Regions from separate parts of the Homo sapiens genome. Here regions 2, 3 and 4 are each linked to region 1. The links come from fine-mapping of genetic effects on gene expression. A gene starts in region 1. Each other region holds a variant in brackets. All regions are shown on one strand. Distances are from middle to middle. Region 1 holds the start of MOK (MOK protein kinase). Region 2 overlaps MOK (MOK protein kinase). Region 3 overlaps WDR20 (WD repeat domain 20). Region 4 overlaps MOK (MOK protein kinase).

What was found. PIP is the estimated chance that this variant, and not a neighbour inherited with it, causes the effect. A credible set is the group of variants that fine-mapping cannot tell apart.
Region 2: its variant is the best candidate, but not a certain one, in a credible set for the expression of MOK in whole blood (TOPMed, PIP 0.62).
Region 3: its variant is the best candidate, but not a certain one, in a credible set for the expression of MOK in gastroesophageal junction (GTEx, PIP 0.56).
Region 4: its variant is the best candidate, but not a certain one, in a credible set for the expression of MOK in whole blood (TOPMed, PIP 0.54).

Annotation. Positions count from the first base shown.
Region 1 is chr14:102,302,461-102,307,845 of GRCh38, reverse strand. MOK (MOK protein kinase) reads left to right here and starts at 2,682. Exons shown (of 12, transcript NM_014226.3): 1 at 2,682-2,884. The coding sequence starts at 2,878. RefSeq lists enhancers at 2,463-2,512, 2,279-2,801.
Region 2 is chr14:102,228,810-102,233,809 of GRCh38, reverse strand. It overlaps MOK (MOK protein kinase), which reads left to right. Exons shown (of 12, transcript NM_014226.3): 8 at 21-122; 9 at 1,102-1,275; 10 at 1,989-2,103; 11 at 4,153-4,353; 12 at 4,444-4,974. The coding sequence ends at 4,521. Among named protein-coding and RNA genes, the nearest start is that of MOK, 74 kb to the left of the region's middle. RefSeq lists an enhancer at 2,195-2,695. The variant G/A (reference allele first, on the strand shown) is at 2,113.
Region 3 is chr14:102,157,275-102,162,659 of GRCh38, reverse strand. The region is part of intron 1 of WDR20 (WD repeat domain 20); the gene reads right to left. Among named protein-coding and RNA genes, the nearest start is that of WDR20, 20 kb to the right of the region's middle. RefSeq lists enhancers at 3,313-3,813, 4,996-5,385. The variant AAACAG/G (reference allele first, on the strand shown) is at 2,501.
Region 4 is chr14:102,252,829-102,258,213 of GRCh38, reverse strand. All of the region lies in intron 4 of MOK (MOK protein kinase), which reads left to right. Among named protein-coding and RNA genes, the nearest start is that of MOK, 50 kb to the left of the region's middle. The variant A/T (reference allele first, on the strand shown) is at 2,107.

The sequences.
Region 1 (5,385 bases):
GGGCTCTCACTTGCTAAATGCATTCACCTGTTCACTTATTTAATACACTCTGCCCTGCAGGGTAGAGAAAAGACACATGAGGGGCCCAAGGAACTTAGAACCCACCTGGTTAGAAGAAACTAACAAGCAAGAGACAGGGTTAGAAATATAAATGTGACATAAGGGCAAGCCCCCAAATAAGAAAGAACACAAGAAGAGAAGAAGGGATAGATCAAATCCTAGTGGTCTGGAGAGATTAGATGTGGCTTCTCAAAGCCAACAAAGATAGCACCACCAACAATAATACACCAGCAATAATCGCTATTTATTTTTTCAACTTTTTTATTGAGAGAAAATTTACATAAAATTCACCATTGTAACCATTTATTTATTTATTATTTTTTGAGATGGAGTCTTGCTCTGTCGCCCAGACTGGAGTGTAGTGGCAGGATCTCGACTCACTGTAGCCTCCACCTCCTGGGTTCAAGTGATTCTCCCGCCTCAGCCTCCTGAGTAGCTGGGATTACAGGAGCGCATCACCACACCTGGCTAATTTTTGTATTTTTAGTAGTGACAGGGTTTCACCATGTTGGTTGGCCAGCTGGTCTCGAATTCCTGACCTCAGTTGGTCCATCCTCCTCGGCCTCCCAAAGTGCTGGGATTATAGGTGTGAGCCACCACGCCTGGCTTGTTTTGTATTTTATTTATGTATTTGCTTTTTTAGACGGAGTCTCACTCTGTCGCCCAGGCTGGAGTGCAGTGGCGCAATCTCGGCTCACTGCAACCTCCGCCTCCCGGGTTCAAGCAATTCTCTGCCTCAGCCTCCCGAGTAGCTGGGATTACAGGTGCCTGCCACCACACCCGGCTCATTTTTCTATTTTCAGTAGAGATGGGGTTTCACCATCTTGGCCAGGCTAGTCTTGAACTCCTGACCTGGGGATCCACCCGCCTTGGCCTCCCAAAGTGCTGGGATTACAGGCATCAGCCACTGTGCCCAGCCGTTTTGTATTTTTTTAGTAGAGACGGGGTTTCCCCCATGTTGGCCAGGCTGGTCTCGAACTCCTGGACTCAAGTGATCTGCCTGCCTCGGCCGCCCAACGTGCTGGGATTGCAGGTGTGAGCCACCGCGACCGGCCGCTTTCTCTTTCTTTCGAGACAAGGTCTTGCTTTGTCACCCAGGCTAGAGTGCAGTGGTGCTATCATAGCTCACTGAGCCTAGAACTCCTGGTCTCAAGATACCTCCGCCTTATTCTCCTGAATAGCTGGGTTTACAGGCATGTGCCACCGTGCCCGGCTTTTTTTTTTTTTTTTTTTTTTTTTTGAGTCTCTTGCTCTGTCGCCCAGGCTGCAGTGCAGGTGGTGCAATCTCGGCTCACTGCAAGCTCCGCCTCCAGGGTTCACGCCATTCTCCTGCCTCAGCCCCCGGAGTAGCTGGAACTATAGCGCCCGCCACTACGCCCGGCTAATTTTTTTTGTATTTTTAGTAGAGATGGGGTTTCACCGTGTTAGCCAGGATGGTCTCGATTTCCTGACCTCGTGATCTGCCCGCCTTGGCCTCCCAAAGTGCTGGGATTACAGGCGTGAGCCACCACGCCCGGAGTTTTTTTTTTTTTTTTTTTAAGAGGGAAGTGGGGTTTCTCTATGTTGCCCAGGCTGGTCTTGAATTTCTGGCCTCAAGCGATCCTCTTGCCTCGGCCTTCCAAAGTGCTGGGATTACAGGTGTGAGCCACCACACCTGGCCAATTCAGTCTTAAACCAATTTTCTGAGGCTTCGTTTTGGCAAGGCTACTTATCTGTTTTAAAAATAAACGATGTATTTTAGTAAAAGAAAAAAAATGGAGGAAAAAACAGGGTTTTGATCTCATGGAATAATTATGAGGCTAATCTAATGAGCTTCATAAAATACTATACCCATACATAGTATGCTTGTTATTTTATTGTTTTGTCAGGGTCCAGAGAACTAGGCCACTGTGTTGCTTAGGCACCGTGTCTGCACATAGTTCATTCCGGTGTACATTCATTCATCTTTACACTAGAATGTTAGTTTCAAGAACTCAGTCACCTCGTCTACACTGTCCTTTAATCCCCAATACCTGCGACAGTTCCTGGGGCAAAAACAAATGCTTGTTGAATTAAAAAGAAAAACTGGGCCGGGCGTGGTGGCTCACGCCTGTAATCCCAGCACTTCGGGAGGCCGAGGCAGGCGGATCACCTGAGGTCAGGAGTTCGAGACCAGCCTAACATGGTGAAACCCCGTCTCTACTAAAAATACAAAAACATTAGCCGGGTGTAGTGGTGGGTGCCTGTAATCCCAGCTACTTGGGAGGCTGAGGCAGGAGAATCGCTTGAAGCCGGGAGGCGGAGGTTGCAGTGAGCCGAGATCACGCCATTGCACCCCAACCTGGGTAACAGAGCGACACTCTGTCTCAAAAAAAAAAAAAAATTCCTGTAGAAGCTCCCAAGCCCAATTAAAGCTCAAGGCTATCGTCCACGTAGTGGGTTCCAAATCGCTAAGTTCCCAGGCCAGCAGGGAGAGCGAGCCGAGCGAAGGTCGCCTGTGTCAAAGGCGGGGATTTGCACAGTATTTACATGGAAGCGGAGGAAAGGCTGCTTAGCAACCGGGCTGAGGGGACGGGCTGCACTGCGCACGCGTACATGGGCGGGGCATCTTGCGCATGCGCAGGCGACAGCTCATGGCGTTCAGGGCCTGACGGTTGCTAGGGTGACAGGGACACAACATGGCGGCGGGATCTCTAACGCTCTCCTTCGAGGGACCACCACGGAGATCCTAGTGCGGGACCCCGCCTCAGGGAAGTGGAAAGCAGGGGGACAACCTTCCTGCTTCTTTCTTTTCCGTCCAGTGTCGGCAAGGGGTTGTCACCGGCTTCCGCATCCAAGATGAAGAGTGAGTGGGGCCGGGGAAAGGGGCAGGGACTGGAGAGCGAGTGGCGGGGGAGGGAGGGACTGGGGGAGCTTGAGGAGCTTGAGGGGCCTGTGGGGCCGGGCGTCGTCGCCTTCTGCCGTGGCTCGACAGGCCCGGGAGGCTCCGCATGTGGGCCCCGAATCCCCCTCGGCTGTGAGAAGCCGGTGCCCCTGGGGGAAGCTTGAGGGGTTGGGGCTAGGTTGGGAACTTTGGGGTCTCGGAGAGCCGACTCGAGTTCCCGCTCAGGCATATTTTGGTGCAGGTGCGTGGTTCTTACATTGGAGTTTAGGGAGTTGACTGTGATTCATTTTATTTTATTTTAAATGCTGGCTTGAACCTGACACTCTTTTCCTGAACATTCGGCAGAAAACGGGGGAGCGCTTACAGCGTGGCTCCCTGCCTTTTCATGATACTGGTTTAGTGACCAATTGAGAGGAAAGCTGGGCTGTGTGCTTTATTTTATTTTTTGGGTCAAGCAGTAGTGTTTTATAGGAACCACTTTTTAATAGTAGTTTTGAAGCAACCTTTTAGTTAAAAGCTGTTACTTCAAAGTTGGGAAATGAGGTAGTCATTCTAGAAAATGTAACGGGTAAAAAATTTTCTTTAGTGGGATTTGTGGATTATTGACAATCCAAGTGCAACCAGCTAGAATGATGTTTTTAAAATTATTATTACTGTACAGATATAATTGTTTATGGTTGTGAACCAGAGGTGCAGTAAAAATTCAGACCTTTGCTGTGAAAATATTATGTTAGGAGTAGTTATAATGTTAAATTTGCATTGTATCCTAATTGTCAATGGTGTACATTGCATAACATTTAAAATAATTAATCTCATTCACCCTTTACAAGGCATTTTTATTTTTATTTTATTTTGTTGGATATTGTTTAATGTTTACCTTTTTCATTAATGCACTACAAAGCTGTAGTTAGAATCCAAGGTCTACAAAAGACTTTACACTTTTACTTACAGTGCAGACTATGATACTGCACATATTTTGTACTATATTCATTTTTTTCTTCCCATCTGTTTGTTTTGAAAATTTTCAGATGTACAGGAAAGTTGCAAGAGCAGTACATTGAATATTTATAAACCCGTCCTTCACTTAGCTGCACCATTTTGCCTTATTTTTGTGTGCTCGCTTTCGCTCTGGTGTTTTCTCTCTCCCATTTATGTATTTATTTTCACTGGACCTTTCAAGAGTTAGTTGTAGACTACTAATAATTCACCACTTCTTTCAGCAGTTATCTGCCAAGAACAAGGACATTCTCCTACATCATCACAGTACAAATAACACATTTAGAAAATTTAACAATGATACAATACTCTGATACACAGTCCATATTTCAGTTTTTCCATTTATCCCAATAACATGTGTTATAGTTGTTTATATTTTTTCTATCCAATCAAGAATCACCAATTGTATTCTGTTGTCATATCTCTTTGGTCTCTTTTAATATGGTGTCCCTGCCTTTTGTGTCTTTCATGACAATGATATTTTCATTTTTATTTGGCTGTCCTCTGTAGGCCAAATGACATTTTTAAAGAATCCAGCCCAGTGTTTTGCAGAATATCGCTCAATTTGGATTTGTCTGATTTTCGCCTCATGATTAGCTTCAGCTTAAATGTTTTTACCAGGAATATGTGAGAGGCAACGTTGTGTCTCTGTCAGTGTGGCCCTTCCAGAGTGCCTGATGTCAGTTCGTTGCAGTTTTGCTGAAGTTAGATTTGATCATTTGGTTTATTTATCTACCTTCTTTTTCTCTTAGACTCTTTTTTTTTTTGGACAGGGTCTCTCTGTGTCACCCTGGCTGGAGTGCAGTGGTGCAATCTTGGCTCACTGCAACCTCTGCCTCCCGGGTTCAAGTGATTCTCCTACCTCAGCCTCCCAAGTAGCTGAGATTACAGGTGTGCACCACCACGCCCAGCTAACTTGTATTTTTTGGTAGAGACGGGGTTTCAACATGTTGGCCAGGCTGGTCTCAAACTCCTGACGTCAAGCGATCCACCCGCCTCAGCCTCCCAAAGTGTTGGAATTACAGACGCGAGCCACTGTGCCTGGCCTTCCTCTTAGACTCTTCATACCCCACTACCTAGAGGCATCACTTTCAGTAATTTACTCTCTCTATATATATTATATATAAATATATAAATGTGTATTTCTCCCTTTTTAAAAGACTAATGTTAGCACTGCATGTGTATACCTATATAGAAATATGTACATATGCTGCCTGGGCGCAGTGGCTCACACCTGTAATGCCAACACTTTGGGAGGCCGAGGCGGGCAGATCACGAGTTCAGGAGATCAATACCATCCCAGCTAACACGGTGAAACCCCGGCTCTACTAAAAATACAAAAAATTAGCCAGGCGTGGTGGTGGGCACCTGTAGTCCCAGCTACTCGGGAGGCTGAGGCAGGAGAATGGCGTGGACCTGGGAGGCAGAGCTTGCAGTGAGCTGAGATCGGGCCACTGTACTGCAGC
Region 2 (5,000 bases), 74 kb after region 1:
TGCCCCTTCTGCCCTTCCAGTCTGCAGCCCCTCTTTCCTGGAGTAAATGAACTGGACCAAATCTCAAAAATCCACGATGTCATCGGCACACCCGCTCAGAAGATCCTCACCAAGTTCAAACAGTAAGTATTGTGTTCTGAGAGTGGATGTGGACCCACTCCCCTGCTAGGACCTGCAGCAGGGCAAGCCCCTCCCTGTGCCTCCCTCAAACCCCTCTCAGGAGCTCCTTTGGCTGACTACAGGGGTTCAAGTTCACTTGAGGGCCAGTGAGTGGCTGCTCAGACAGAGCCCATCACTTTAAGTGGTCTCAAAGGTGAGCTCTTCCTTGAGCATCACAGAAAGATTTGTCACAGGCTTTCTGAGGGCTGGGGAGTCAGGCTGTGTTCCCTGAGTAATTTAAACAGGACTTAGAAGCCTTTGGGTGGAAACGTTCCCCAAGCACAGAGCATAGGTGGTGAGGGCTTTCTGCAGCCCTCCACAGCCCTGCTGGCGGGACCGACGCCTGGAAGAGGTGTTCCCGGACTCTTAGGGTCATTCTGGTGAAGCTGAGGCTGGGAGTTGGGACTTCCCAGGGAGGGCCTGTGGGCTGAGGGGCAAGTAGCACCCAGCGGCCCCCACATCCCAGGGAGGGAGAAGGTGGCAACCATTTTGGACTCTTCTTTTTTTGTTAAATTTTATTTCATTCTTCTCATGTGGGAAGGTGATATTAATCTTTTATAGGAAAGGTAGTTTTCTTACATTTTTAGCATAACAGATCCCCCCCTTTATAATAGACTATTTTTAAATAGATTTTTTTAAGAGCAGTTTTAGGTTTCCATAGAGCCCTGTCCCCATGTGCACACAGCCTCCCCTGTCGTCAGCACCTGCCTCGAGTGGTGTGTTTATTATGGTCGATGAACCGTGGATATCTCATTACTACACAGAGCCCATCATTTACATCAGGGGTCCCTCTTGGTGGTGCACGTTCTGTGGGCTGGGACAGGTGTAGACTCTGCAGTCATAAACCATTCCCCACCACACAGGGCCCTTAGTTGTGACAGTGGACCACCGGTGCGCTCAGTGACAGCATGACCATTTATTATCATTGGGTTTTTAATACAGGTCGAGAGCTATGAATTTTGATTTTCCTTTTAAAAAGGGATCAGGAATACCTCTACTAACAACCAATTTGTCCCCACAATGCCTCTCCCTCCTGCACGCAATGGTGGCCTATGATCCCGATGAGAGAATCGCCGCCCACCAGGCCCTGCAGCACCCCTACTTCCAAGAACAGAGGTAGGCACTCTCGTGGGTTCGGTGGGGCAGATGCAGGACCTGGCAAATGAGACCCATGGGCACATGGTGGGGCAAGGTACTGCCCCCTGGAGGGTCCCTGGTTCTTGGGAATCGCGCTCTCTATCCTGAAGAGTGGTCAGGGCCTCTTGGGGCCCACACCGTGCTGCCTTCTGGTGTATCCTCCCCAAAATGAGGATGTTAGCAGCTCCACGGCAGGAGAAAGAGGGGCTGGCTGTCCACTTTGCGGTTGATGCCAAGGCTACAGGTAGTAATCCTTCTAGAAGAGCCTGGTGTGCGGCCCTTGTAAATGGTGTGAACAGGATGCATTCTGAGATGGTAGAGCACTGTGGATGTCACCTGGCGCTGGAAGTACCTGCTGAATGTGAATCTAAGACCTGTCTGCCCTGAGGTCACCTAATTCCGGACCTCTGGACACTCCTGTTTGCCTAACTGTGGAGGTGACAGTTTGATCTGAAACTGCGAGTCCCTGGGTAGGCAGCGCTTCTGATTCATGGAGCCAGCTCTGTTCCTGGCCCAGAGACTGTCAGGCTGAGACAGAAAAGAAAAAAAAAGGCTCCTGATTACAGCTCAGGCAGAAAAGAAGAGCTAGTGACAACTCACACAGTAGACAAATTGGAGACAAAGAAGCCAGTAGGCCGTGTGCTCTGCGGGCTCTCAGTGGAGCTGCTCCATTCTCTTCTCCTTCCCCGTAGGAAAACAGAGAAGCGGGCTCTGGGCAGCCACAGAAAAGCTGGCTTTCCGGAGCACCCTGTGGCACCGGAACCACTCAGTAACAGCTGCCAGATTTCCAAGGAGGGCAGAAAGCAGGTACTAAGC[G/A]AAATCGGAGCCGGAGACTGCCTAGCTCAGCCGGGACTGGATGCCCTCGGGTGGCCTGTGTCTCTCTCAGGAGGACGCCACCTGTGGAGGCTGTGGCAGACCACATTGTCAGTCGAGGCCTGAACAGCATGCGAGTTGATGGCTCCATGTGTTGGGACATCAGGGACCCCAGTTCTATTTGCTCAAGCCCTTTCTGCCCCAGTAGCTAAGAATTGATGACGAATATCCCATGTGAGCAGGCCCAGAGAGGGGATGTTTGCATGAACTTTTGTGTCTGTCCTGATGACCATATGCAGGTGCCAGGTTCTATGCCAAAGCACCGTGCAGACATCGCCCCTCAGAACGGCCCTGGAGGGAGGCGCCAAGAAGATGCAATGCTGGCCCAAGTCACCCACCCAGCCAGTGACAGGTCTCAAGTCACTGTCTCTGCCTGGCTCCAGATGAGCACTTCGTCCCATCAGCAGAGGTTGTGCACATTTTCGGTTGAGAAATGCCAGCTTTGCCCCTCAGTGCCTTCACCTTCCCACCTACCGTGTGGCATCCTAGCCTGGTGCAGCCCTGTGTCACCTGCTGGCAGGGTCACACCAGTCTCCCAGTTCTGGGCTGGCACCCCAACAGTGTGACAGTGTGCCCTTCCATCATTCGTCTGTTCGGTCGTCCGTACGTCACTCGCTCCTCCCAGCCTTTACCGAGTGCTCCCTGACCGCTTGGGAGCTGGGAACCCAGAGCTGCAGTCAGGCTGCTCTCCAGAAAGCCAGGCTCCTGTGTCCCATTGGTCCCTGATTTGACAGCTCCACTTGAATGTCCGAAAGACAGACTTGCTGAAACCCCTTCTCCTGATCTTTCCCCAAACGTGCTTTTTCCCTGTGGCTTCCCATGGCCTTCCCTCCGAGGGAGGCAACTCCGTCAACTGCCCAGGCCCCCCGTGGACCCTTCCTTCATCCCACAGGGGCTTCGCCTTCTTGCCTCCTACATCCTCCTCACCTTGCCTAAGTCACCACAGATGGCCTCCTCACTACTGTCCCTGCTCTGCCTCCGCTCCCTCCTGGACAGAGGGTCTGCTTCAAACCCTTGATGTCACTCCTGGCCGGCATTCACCCAAGTCCCCACCCTCAGTCACATCCGAGGTCGGCATATTTTTCTCTAAGGGTCTGATAGGAAATATTTTAGGCCCCGTGGCCGTGGGGTGTTCGTTACACTCCCTGCTTTGCTGCAGTGTGAAAGGAGCTGGAGGCAACACATGAACCACATAGGGGCTGCGTTCCAGTAGAACTGGGGACACTAAAATTTGAATTTCACATAATTTTCACATGCCATGAAACATTTTTTTTTCAGTCATTAAAAATAAAAACCAGGTGGGTGCGGTGGCTCACACCTGTAAACCCAGTGCTTAGGGAGGCCAGGGTAGGATCACTTGAGGCCAGGAGTTTGAGACCAGCCTGGGCAACGTAGGCAAGACCACTGCCCCACCACCCCATCTGTTTTAAAAATTAGCTGGGTGTGGTGCGTGCCTTTGGTCCCAGCTACTTGGGAGGCTGAGGCAGGAGGATCGCCTGAGCCTAGGAAGCTGAGGCTACAGTGAGCCAAGATTGCACCACTGCACTCCAGTCTGTGCTACAGAGCAACAAACACCGTGTCTCAAAACAAACAAACAAACAAAAAACCCCAAATGTAAAACCATCCTTAGCTCACAAGCCACCCAAAACCAGGCGACAGGCAGATCAGGGTGTGAGACCTTGGAGCTAGAGCAGGAGGCAGGAGGCGTGGGCACCACAGCCCGCGAGCCCTTTGCCGCCCGCACTGCTCAGCTTGCAGTCGGCATTCTTCAGGTTCCCCCTGAAGGTTTGGCCTCCCCCGTGGGACTCTAGTGGGCAGCCACTCCCTTGGGGTGTCTGGGACCTGGTGGATGTGTCCCAGTCACATCTTATGGTCAAGAAATTGTATTAGGCAAAAGCAGTACAAAAGAGCCTCTTTCGTTTTTCCTAATTTCCATAAAGCAGAAAGCGTTTTATGTCCAACTGGCCTCTGTTCTGTTTCAAGAAACAGTCCCTAAAGCAAGAGGAGGACCGTCCCAAGAGACGAGGACCGGCCTATGTCATGGAACTGCCCAAACTAAAGCTTTCGGGAGTGGTCAGACTGTCGTCTTACTCCAGCCCCACGCTGCAGTCCGTGCTTGGATCTGGAACAAATGGAAGAGTGCCGGTGCTGAGACCCTTGAAGTGCATCCCTGCGAGCAAGAAGGTAGCGCGGAACCAGCTTCTCTGACGGCGCTGCTCTTCGACCCAGCCCAGGCCGCCACTGAATTTTGTGTCTGTAATTTTTCTTTGACAGACAGATCCGCAGAAGGACCTTAAGCCTGCCCCGCAGCAGTGTCGCCTGCCCACCATAGTGCGGAAAGGCGGAAGATAACTGAGCAGCACCGTCGTCTCGACTTCGGAGGCAACACCAAGCCCGACCGGGCCAGGCCTGGGTGATCTGCTGCTGAGACGCCACGGAGGGCTGGGGATGCGCCTGCGTCCGTTTCGCGCTGGCCGGGGCTCTGGGTGCTGCCCTGCGCCCTGCCGCACCCGCGGCCCGCGCAGCTGCCTAGGATGTTCTGGGCTAATATACTTGTAAAACCACCGCATTCTAGGGTTTTCTTTCATTTTCGTTAAGAATTTGGGGCAGGAAATACTTTGTAACTTTGTATATGAATCAAAACAAACGAGCAGGCATTTCTGTGATGTGTTGGGCGTGGTTGGAAGGTGGGTTCTGCGTGTCCCTTCCCAGCGCTGCTGGTCAGTCGTGGAGCGCCATCATGTCTTACCAGTGACGCTGCTGACACCCCTGACTTTTATTAAAGAATAAGCTGTCGTTACAGTATTGCATTTTAATGTTTTCCGAGTCCA
Region 3 (5,385 bases), 150 kb after region 1:
GGGCAACAGAGCGAGAGAGTGTGAGAGGGCGAGAGAGCGTGAGAGAGCAAGAGAAAGAAAGAAAAAGAAAGAAAGAGAGAGAGAGAAAAAGAAAGAAAGATTATCTGATGTATTCAAGTGAGTCCTTGTTGGAGGACTATAATTTCAACAAATTAGTTCCAATTTTGTTCAACTTAAAAATGAACATAATGTGCCTACTACGTACAGGCACTTATTGATATGATCAATAAGATATGGTTTCTTCCCTCAAGATTCACAGTCCAGTAGGGTAAACAGAGATTCAAACAAAAAATTCCAATATTGTGTGAAAAGGTGGCAGCTCAATCATAGTAGTCAAACAGCAAGGGCAAAGGAAAGACAGGTTTAAACCACGAAACAGTACAATGCAGTCAAAGGTGCACTCAATGTGCCAATTCCAGTGTGTTGTATTCCCTGCTGTACCGGTTCTCCTATGAGCTTGTCTCGAGAAAAGAACTATGTCTATTACATCTGGGTCCCAAAACCTAGACCAGTGCAAGACCTCAGTGTAGTTTGCATTTCTTACTCGCTTATCCAATATCTACTTACAGATCATTCTCCTATCTACTATCTCATACCCCAACTCCAAAGTAGTCTCCAGAGCAATCAAGTTGTTGGGTAATCCAATCTCTTTGCTAAAGGTATGGGTTAGTAAAGACTGGGTTAACCAGTGCGTATTTCCTTGGCCGCAGGAATGGGCTGGTTAATCCAATTTGGAACAACAAGTCAAAGAAGGAGGTTTGGTAAAGGCTTCTATAAAATAAGCTTCCTTATTTTTATGACAGCCTGATTAGAAGAGCTGTTCATTCTCATCCTGGATATTAGCTCTCATTTTGGTCTATGTGGTACGGTGATGTGAAGCCTAACATTTCCACCACTGTTTTGCCACCTAAACCGGGCTGAAACACGGTAGAAAGCAGAACCAATGGAATCTCAGCAAAACGGAGCTGGCATCCCAATCAAACCATGCCTGAAGCCCACTGTACCTGTGGAATTTTCAGTGACATACACCAATACACCCCTTTAAAATTTAAACAGTTTGAATGGGTTTCCTGTTACTTGTAAACCACAACATTCCTAAGTATGCTAAATGCTAAAACACACTAGTGAACCCAGCATGGGCAATATGGCGAAACCCTGTCTATACAAAAAACACAAAAATTAAACGAGCACAGTGGCTCGAGCCTGTAGTCCCAGCTACTCAGGAGGCTGAGGTCAAAGAGTTGCTTGAGACCAGGAGGCTGAAGCTACAGTAAGCCATGATCGCACCGCTGCACTCCAGCCTGGGTGACAGAGAGAGATCCTGTCTTAAAAAAAAAAAAAAATAGCTGAGCATGGTGCTAGGCACCTGTAATTCCAGCTACTTGGGAGGCTGAGGCAGGAGGACTGCTTGAACCCGGGAGGCGGAGGTTGCAGTGAGCCAAGATTGTGCCACGGCACTCTAGCCTGGGCGACTGAGTGAGACTCTGCCTCAAAAAAAAAAAAAAAAAAAAAAAAAATATATATATATATATATATATGCAGTTATGCTTTGACCCAGTGTATCCACTGGAAATTTATCATACATGTGAGGTTAAATTTATCATACATGTGGAAATTTATCATACATGTGAGGAAATGATCCTCCTCTGGAAATTTATCATACATGTGAGGTTATTCACTGCAGCATTATTCTTTTTTTTTTTTTTTTTTTTGAGACAGAGTCTTGCCCTGTCACCCAGGCTGGAATGCAGTGGCGCGATCTCGGCTCACTGCAAGCTCCACTCGCTGGGTTCACGCCATTCTCCTGCCTCAGCCTCCCAAGTAGCTGGGAATACAGGTGCCTGCCACTACACCTGGCTAATTTTTTTTTTTTATATATTTAGTAGAGACGGGGTTTCACCGTGTTAGCCAGGATGGTCTTGATCTCCTGACCTTGTGATCCACCTGCCTCAGCCTCCCAAAGTGCTGGGATTATGGGCGTGAGCCACCGCGCCCGGCCATTATTCATATTTTTTAAAGGGATCATCAATCAATCAAGAGTGATGTCGTCAAATAAATTATGGTACATCCACAGCATGGAGTACAAAGCAATGACAAGAAAGAGTGAAGCTCTCTTTTACTAAAATGGAAAGATCTCCAATATAGATCATTAAGCAGAAAAAACAAGATGTAAAATACCATACACAGTATGTTCCCTCAATTCCTTCCCATCTCTGCTCAAATGTTGTCTTATTCGTGTAACAACAAAAGAATAAGTCAAAAACAAATAAAATATTATCTATAGTTAGAGGAAGGGAGCTAGGAGGGGGAAGGAGGACAGGACTAGAAGACAGACCTCTCTGAATATAACCTTGTTCTATATGCTGCAACCATGTAAATGTTCTGCATAACTGAAATATAAAATTAAATTTTAAAACCAATCTCTCCTGTTCTAAAACTAGACTACAGTGATAATTGTACAACTCAATAAATTACTAAAAATCATTCAATTGTACACTTA[AAACAG/G]ATAGCAAGAAGAAATAATTTGAGCGCATTCAAGTTTTTTGTTTGTTTTTAGAGACAGGGTTTCGCTCTGTTACTCAGGGTGGAGTGCAGTGGTATGATCATAGCTCACTGAAGCGTTGAATTCCTGGGCTTAAGCCATCCTATCGCCTCAGCCTCCCAAGTAGCAGGACTACAGATGTGTACCACCATGCCTGGCTAGTTTTTAAATTTTTTGTAAAGACAGGGTCTCACAATGTTGCCCAGGCTGGTCTCAAATTCCTGGTCTTAAGTGATCCTCCCACCTCAGCCTCCCAAAACTGGATCAAGGTTTTTATTTTTTTGGAGACAGGCTCTTCCTCTGTTGCCTAGGCTGGAGTGCAGTGGCTTGATCTCGGTTCACTACAACCTCTGTCTCCCCAGCTCAAATGATCCTCCCACCTCAGCTTTCCAAGTAGCTGGGACTACAGGCACAGGTCACCACTCCTCGTTGATCTTTTCAAAAAATTTTAATAGAGATGAGGTCTGTTTTGCCCAGGCTGGTCTGGAACTCCTGAGATAAAGCAATCTGCCCACCTCAGCCTCCCAAAGTGTTGGGATTACCGGCGTGCGCCACCGCACCCAGCTGGATTAAGTTTTAAGAGGCGGTGAAACAATCAAAGAAAGCTAGTAAAGACCAGTGCCTCTTCAACTTTAGTGTGTACCTGAAACACTTGAGGATTGTCTTAGAATGCAGATTTAATTCAGTAAATGGGGCCAATATTCTGCACTTCCAACAGGCTCCCAGGTGACCGCTGATGATGCTGATGTAGCTCTGTGGATCACACTTTGAGGGCTGAGACAATTTAAACAACTAGAGGTGCTTTGCTCTAAGAAGTAGCTGAGAAATGGGCCAGCAGCAACTGGAGGCACATGACCCATAGAAAATGAGTGGGTGGGCTGGGTGCGGTGGCTCATGCCTGTCATCCCAGCACTTTGGGAGGATGAAGCAGGACCACTGGAGCCCAGGAGTTCAAGACCAGCCTGGGTAACATAGTGAGACTCCATCTCTACAAAAAATGTAAAAATTAGCCAGGGGTGTGGTGGTGCACCCTTTTAGTCCCAGCTACTTGGGAGTGTGAGGTGGGAGGATCGCTTGAGGCCAGGAGTTAAAGGTTGCGGTGAGCTTTGATCACATTACTACACTACAGTCTGGGTGACTGAGAGAGACCCTGCCTTAAAAAAAAAGAAAGAAAATGAGTGGGTGTCAGAAAGAGTCTCTCCCCCTGACAACTGTTTTAAAATGAGAGAAACAGCGACACGTTTGTAGGAAACAGAGAATACCGATTAGCCAAAATGAGGTGGGATTTAGCGAACGAGTCGGGGAGGTGACTTTAGACAGGGGCAGAGCTCTTCCTTAAAAATAGAAGGGAAGGCATCCGGTACAGACAGAAGCTGAGATGTGAGGGTAGAAATCTGGAGAAATTCTCTTTTGACTGTTTAATTGTTCTAAGTGAAATAAGAAGTACAGTCATCAACTAAGAATAAGGATAGGGAAGTAGGTTATTGAAGATCTGAGGACAAAGTTGTAAAATTGTCATCTAGGCTGGGCACAGTGGCTAATGCCTGTAATCTCAACACTTTGGGAGGCCAAGGTGGGCGGATCATAAGGTCAGGAGTTTGAGACCAGCCTGACCAACATGGTGAAACCCCGTCTCTATTTAAAATACAAAAATTAGCCAGGCGTGGTGGTACATGCCTGTAATCTCAGCTACTCAGGAGGCTGAGGCAGGGGAATCGCTTGAACCCAGGAGGCAGAGGTTGCAGTGAGCCAAGATCACGCCATTGCACTCCAGCCTGGGCAACAAGAGTGAGACTCCATCTTAAAAAAAAAAATTGTCATCTAGAAGGGTGGGGTCAGTGTGGTGCAACTGCTTGTCAGCACCATGCACCCCTCCAAGGTGATGGTTCTGAATCTTAGGGGAGTGTAGGCAGCACAGATGTGCTATCCTTCAACCACATGCAGGGCACACGTGCAGATGTGCAGTAGGCAGAGGATTCACTTTAGCCAAGACTGGGATCGAGTGTGTATACGAGGGGCGTTATAATGATTGCTCACTGCACTGGAACAGGGGTAATGCTTGAGACAGTGGCAGTGAGGCAGGGGCTGAAAACATTGAGAAAGGAAGGGAAGCGATAGCACCCCGAGACAGCACTGATACAATCTGATGACTTCAGCCCTAAAGGAGGACAATACACTAATGTAGTACATTACTTTGGAACTAGCACCAAAAGAAAATACATTTTAAGACACACTTTTTAAATCATACTAAGAATTCTAAAAGAGGCCAACATTTAAATGACCACCACTAAGGAAGATAATCCTACCCTCCCCAAGCCTTGCACAAGCTTCAGCCCTCACACTGCAGCTCACACTCCCAGAAGGAGCCAGCAGCTGCCACATCCTTAGGCCTTGAACTTCTAGTTCTCTTGGTTTAGAATCCCCTCCCCTTTCAGCTGACCCACCATCTGAATTCAAATGACACCTTATTAAATCTTCTCTAAAGTTCCTGCTGCAATTGAGACAAATATTACACTGTCATCACCTACTATCTGAACCAAATGGAACAGAGTCCACCTTGTGGAGTGGTTCTTGTATTCTGCCCTCTAGTTAGGGCAGCAAGAATGATCAGGAAGAAGAAAAATGAAGCAAAAAGCATGGCCAGCTTAGAATTCTAGATGAGCAACTGCTGAGTGAAAGTACCACAAGAGAGCTCTTCATGGAGCTAAAAGTTACACTTCACAGGACATAAGAAACTAGTCACCCTTCTTATATTCAATCACACATGAGATACTAAAGAAGTTAAGGGAAGACTTACCTAAATCAGGGTGCTTAAACTTTCTGTGCCATGGACTCCTTACAAC
Region 4 (5,385 bases), 50 kb after region 1:
GGGAAGCCATTATTGGGCTTTAAAGCAAGGGAGAGGTGGTTTTCAATTGGTGTTTAGACCAGTGTTTCCAAAACGATCACAGAAGACCAGTTGTTTTATTTCTAATATATTGCAGACCAGAATTTTTGTAAAATATAGTAAAAATGAATTACCAGAAAAGTGATCACGTGCTTAGATGTCACAGCATGTCAAATTGCTATAAGTGGTTCTAAACAGGTATTCTTTTTTTTTTTTTTTTGAGACAGAGTCTCACTCTGTTGGCAGGCTGGAGTGCAGTGGCGTGATCTCTGCTCACTGCGACCTCTGCCTCCCGGATTCAAGCAATTCTCCTGCCTCAGGCTCCCAAGTAGCTGGGACTACAGGTGCGTGCCACCACGCCCTGCTAATTTTTGTATTTTTAGTAGAGACGGGGTTTCACCATGTTGGCCAGGATGGTCTCGATCTCTTGACCTCGTGATCCGCCCACCTCAGCCTCCCAAAGTGCTGGGATTACAGGCGTGAGCCACTGCGCCCAGCCCTAAACAGTTATTCTTAATTTATGTCATCTCCTCTTAGACCAGTAACAGTCCCTGAACCATCATCAGCTCATGGACTGTGCTTTGAGTAGCATCTTTTTAGAAGGAATTCTCCAGTTGCTGTTTAAAGAATAAATGTGCTGTAGGTGGATGTGTTGGTTCTCCCTTTTAGTTGCAAATAACAGCCTCCCCTATTCTCTGATTAACTCAAGAGGGGTTACTCTGTGATATGGATAGATTGCCAGAATTGTTGGGAGGACTGAAGAAGCAGACTCTGGGCTTGGCCTATAGGAAGTTGCTTCTCACAACTCTGCTCTCCATGATCAGGCTGCTGGCCCTGCCGCTGACAACGCTCTGCAGAATAAAGCTGCTGCAGCTACCAGGCCTGGAATCATGCCTCTTCTGCCAGGATCAGGAGGCAGCCGTGATCCATGCCGTCAGAATAGATGCCTTCCCTCCTCTCATCTGCCCCCATACCTGGGCCAGAAGCATCTTTCCCAAGTGTTCCCATTTAGGCAGAGCCTAAGTCACATCTGGAACACTCAGCTGCAAGGCAGCATGAAGAATGTCATTTGGACGTTCAGGCCTGGCATGCTAGATGGGGGTTTGGGATAGGACCTGAGCAAGCCAATCTGCGGGTGTGCCATGAAGGCAAGAGTGGTGTGGGAGCCTGGGGAAGGGATGGCGAAGGCCCTTTGCCCGCCACTGTCTCTGGATGAATGTCTCTGAATTCTTTGGCGTGAGTTAGTAATTGGGGTGAATAGAGCATGGCTACCCGCCAGCGATCCTAGTTTGTGTATTTGGGCGCGTGTGCTTATGGCTCTGGGCTCATGCCATCTGCAGTAGGAAAGCCTGTCTTGGAATTTATGAAGGAAAAACCGTAAAGGAGGTTTAGTTTCCCTCATACTCTGACTATAGAGGCAGCTACTCTTTTACAAAATTGTATCTGATTCTGCTCTTTTTTTTTTTTTTTTAACTGTTTCAAGTTAAATTCATAGGGCCAGGTGCAGTGGCTCACGTGTGTAGTCCCAACACTTTGGGAGGCCAAGGCGGGAGGATTATTTGAGCACAGGAGTTTGAGACTAGCCTAAGACTCTGTCTGTACAAAAAAACAATTTTTTTTTTTTGAGACGGAGTCTCGCTCTGTTGCCCAGGCTGGAGTGCAGTGGCGATCTCAGCTCACTGCAAGCTCCGCCTCCCGGGTTCACGCCATTCTCCTGCCTCAGCCTCCCGAGTAGCTGGGACTACAGACACCCGCCACCACTAAATTAGCCTGGCTAATTTTTTTTTGTATTTTTAGTAGAGACGGGGTTTCACCGTGTTAGCCAGGATGGTCTCAATCTCCTGACCTCGTGATCCGCCTGCCTCAGCCTCCCAAAGTGCTGGGATTACAGGTGTAAGCCACCGTGCCCAGCCCAAAAAATTAAAAAAAAAAGCATCCGGGTGTGGTGGCACACGCCTGTAGACCCAACTACTCAGGAGGCTGAGGTGGGAGGATGGCTTGAGCCCAGGAGGTCGAGGCTGCAATGAGCTGATTGTACCACTGCACTCCAGCCTGGGCAACAGAGTGAGACCCTGTCTCAAAAAAAAA[A/T]AATAATAATAACTCATTTGCCTTAATGAATGGCTAGTTCGTAGTTCTCTCCACCCTCGCTGGAGGGGCGTGTGCTGGGGATGCCGTCATTCTGCAGGCTACAGTGGCAGCTGTATTCCTTCAGTTAGTGCTGAGTCACAGTGAATGCCTTGGTTTATCACTGTGTTCACTTAAGTTTTTAAAATTATTAGTATCATATATGACATTCCTTCTTAATGAGAATATTTGGTAAAAATTAACTTGTAAAAATTACCTTGGTCAGGATAGCTAGAGCAGATGAGGGAAATGCTTTTGGGGCCTGCTGGAATTCACTAAGGGGCATATAAGAAACTTCTGAGTAACTCGTTAATTGTACTCTATTTTACTTGTTTCAAACTGTTTGAAAACAAGAATCTGATGGGAACCAGATAGTCTTGGGCCCGGAAAGTTTGTTCTGGAGAAGCTTATGGAGAGTGGCTAGGCAGTGCTTTCCTTTGCAAGGGTGTGGTCTCCAGCACTTCAGACTACTGGGCCCACACTGTTGCTCTGATACCTCATGCCAGCAGTAACACCCCCAACTACTGGCCCGGGACCAGGACGGCTCCCTACCCCTAGGGCTGTGAATAGGGAGTTTCCAGGAGGAGACCCAGGGAGGCAAGGAAGGGTGGGCACCTGAAGAGGACTCTTACCTGGGACTGAAGGCATCTGAGAAGCACAGATTCCTGGCCCGCATGCCCGTTTGTGGCTCCATTAGGTCTAGGTTCAGGCCTTGAAATCTGCTTTTTTTTTAAATTTTATTTTATTGTTTTTTGAGACAGAGTCTCACTGTGTCACCCAGGCTGGAGTACAGTGGCACGATCTCAGCTCACTGCAAGCTCCGCCTCCCAGGTTCACACCATTCTCCTGCCTCAGCCTCCCAAGTAGCTGGGATTGAAGGCGCCTGCCGCCACGCCTGGCTAATTTTTTGTATTTTTATAGAGACGGGGCTTCACCGTGTTAGCCAGGATGGTCTCGATCTCCGGACCTCGTGATCCGCCTGCCTCAGCCTCCCAAAGTGCTGGGATTACAGGCTTTTTAATCAGCTTTTTAAAAGACTTCTAGGTGATTATGAAGATTGGATAGATTAGACTTTTCCTAAAAGATTCCACGTTTCCCAAGTTCAAGTTCAGATGACTCTAATGACAATTTTATGATACGAGTAAGATTTAAATGTGTGGACATGGCTGGGAAGGGCGTTCCTGGAATGGAACATCATGAATATAGGTACTAAGCAGGCGAGCTTTGGGAGCAACCAGAGAAGAGTCCATGAGGGAATTCACCTGAGCATTCGATAAACAAGAAGGGGGTGGTGGGGCATGGTTCTCGAAGCGAGGACCCAAGACTAGTAGCTGCACCTGGGGCTCTAGTTAGGCGACTGTGGGGCCCCATTGCAGACCTTCTGAATCAGACATGTGGGTGGAGATGGGGAGGGACAGTATGTGTCTTAGCAACCCACTCGTGGGAGTCTGAGAACCCTTTTGGTGGAGAGGAATTGGTTGAAGGGGGTCTTGAGTGCCGGGGTAAGTCGGGAGCAGTGAGACTGGGTTTGATCACAGGACCCAGGAGCACCTGATGAGATGAAATTCCAGCAGCTTCATTCTGCTGCGTGTGTGAAGGCAAATGGAAAGTTGCTTTCTTTTTATCTGTTATAGATATTAATTTAATAAGATTCCAGAATTATCAGCTTGGGAAAGCTGATAAAGGTCTTACTTTTGATTCTTTTGATTTTAATTCTGGAAAATTGATGATAAATCATGTGAAACAATAAAAAGATGATAGTATGACACAAAAAAGTTAATTGCGGCCAGGCGCAGTGGCTCAAGCCTGTAATCCCAGCACTTCGGGAGGCCGAGGCGGGCGGATCTCGAGGTCAGGAGTTCAAGACCAGCCTGGTCAACATAGTGAAACCCCGTCTCTACTGAAAATACAAAAAAATTATCAGGGTGTAGTGGTGGCGGGTGCCTGTAATTCCAACTACTCGAGAGGCTGAGGCAGGAGAATTGCTTGAACCTGGGAGGTGGAGGTTGCAGTGGGCGGAGATCGTACCAATGCATTCCAGCCTGGGCGACAGTGCTACACTTCGTCCCAAAAAAAAAAAGAAAAAGCTAATTGCACCTAGACATTTTACAATTTAAATTACTTTCTATTATTTATATATTCTTGTTAAGTAGAGAAAAAGAATAATTTTAATTTTTCAAAAGAAATTGTAAACTTAGGACCAAAAGTGTCAAATGGTATATGTGCTCATGGAGGGAGGAAGTGGATTTCCAAACTGTTAGGTGAACATGGTCATTGTGCAGATTTAAAACTTAATAACTTAAAACACACACTTTGAAAATTAAAATCAAGTAAAATTGACATCTTCTGGAACAGGGGTAAACTGTGATGCTGGGCATGTGGTATGACGTCTTCAAGCACGGTAGAAAGCTGCGGGCACCAAGGCACAGCCAGCCCAGGTGCTGAGTACAGGGCAGCTGCAGGGGACTGTGCCAGCCACGCTAAACGGCCTCTCCTGTGAAAGAAGACATGTGGACTGTGACTGAAAGCAGTTGAACTGCTTCTTGAACTGTGATCTGTCCCCCTTTAAAGTGGACATCTCCACATAAACAGGAAAGCCTAGTGGAACACTGGGTTGACGAGTGACTCCTAACATTTTCATAATCAGTGTAGGCTGAAGGACAGCGTCCTGGAAGGCCTCCGAGGCCGGCTGAGGCTGTCAGACCATGCTACTTGTGTGACGATTGCTCAGTGCTGTTCCCACTGAAACCATAGCACATGCGCTCTGAATGTTCACAGAGCTGACGCATGTGCTAATTGCCCCGATTTCATCCTTACACATTGTATGTATGGATCAAAATAACACTCTCTGGGTCCCATTAGTAGGTACAATTACTACATTTCCACTAAAAAGGAAAAAAATTATCAACAATTCTGTCATTCTTCAGTAACGTTTATTGTTTATTAATTTTTTAATTGGCAGTTTCCCAAACCTGCTTCACCTGTTTCAAAACTCAGAAAAACCACGTGTGCTAGAGCAGCAGCAGAGTCACTATGCAGCTGATAGAGCTGACTCGCCCGGGGCTTCCAAAACAGGCCCTTGCGGTGTCTCCACCATGTTTATAGATTTTGTTAAATTTGCAAAAATAAGATATTTCAACCACAAAGTTAAGACTGCCATCTCTTCTATTTTAACCTCTCCTATGTCATATTTCCCCTCTTAGCGTAACCGTGAAATAGCCGTGGACATGTCTGGAATCTTGT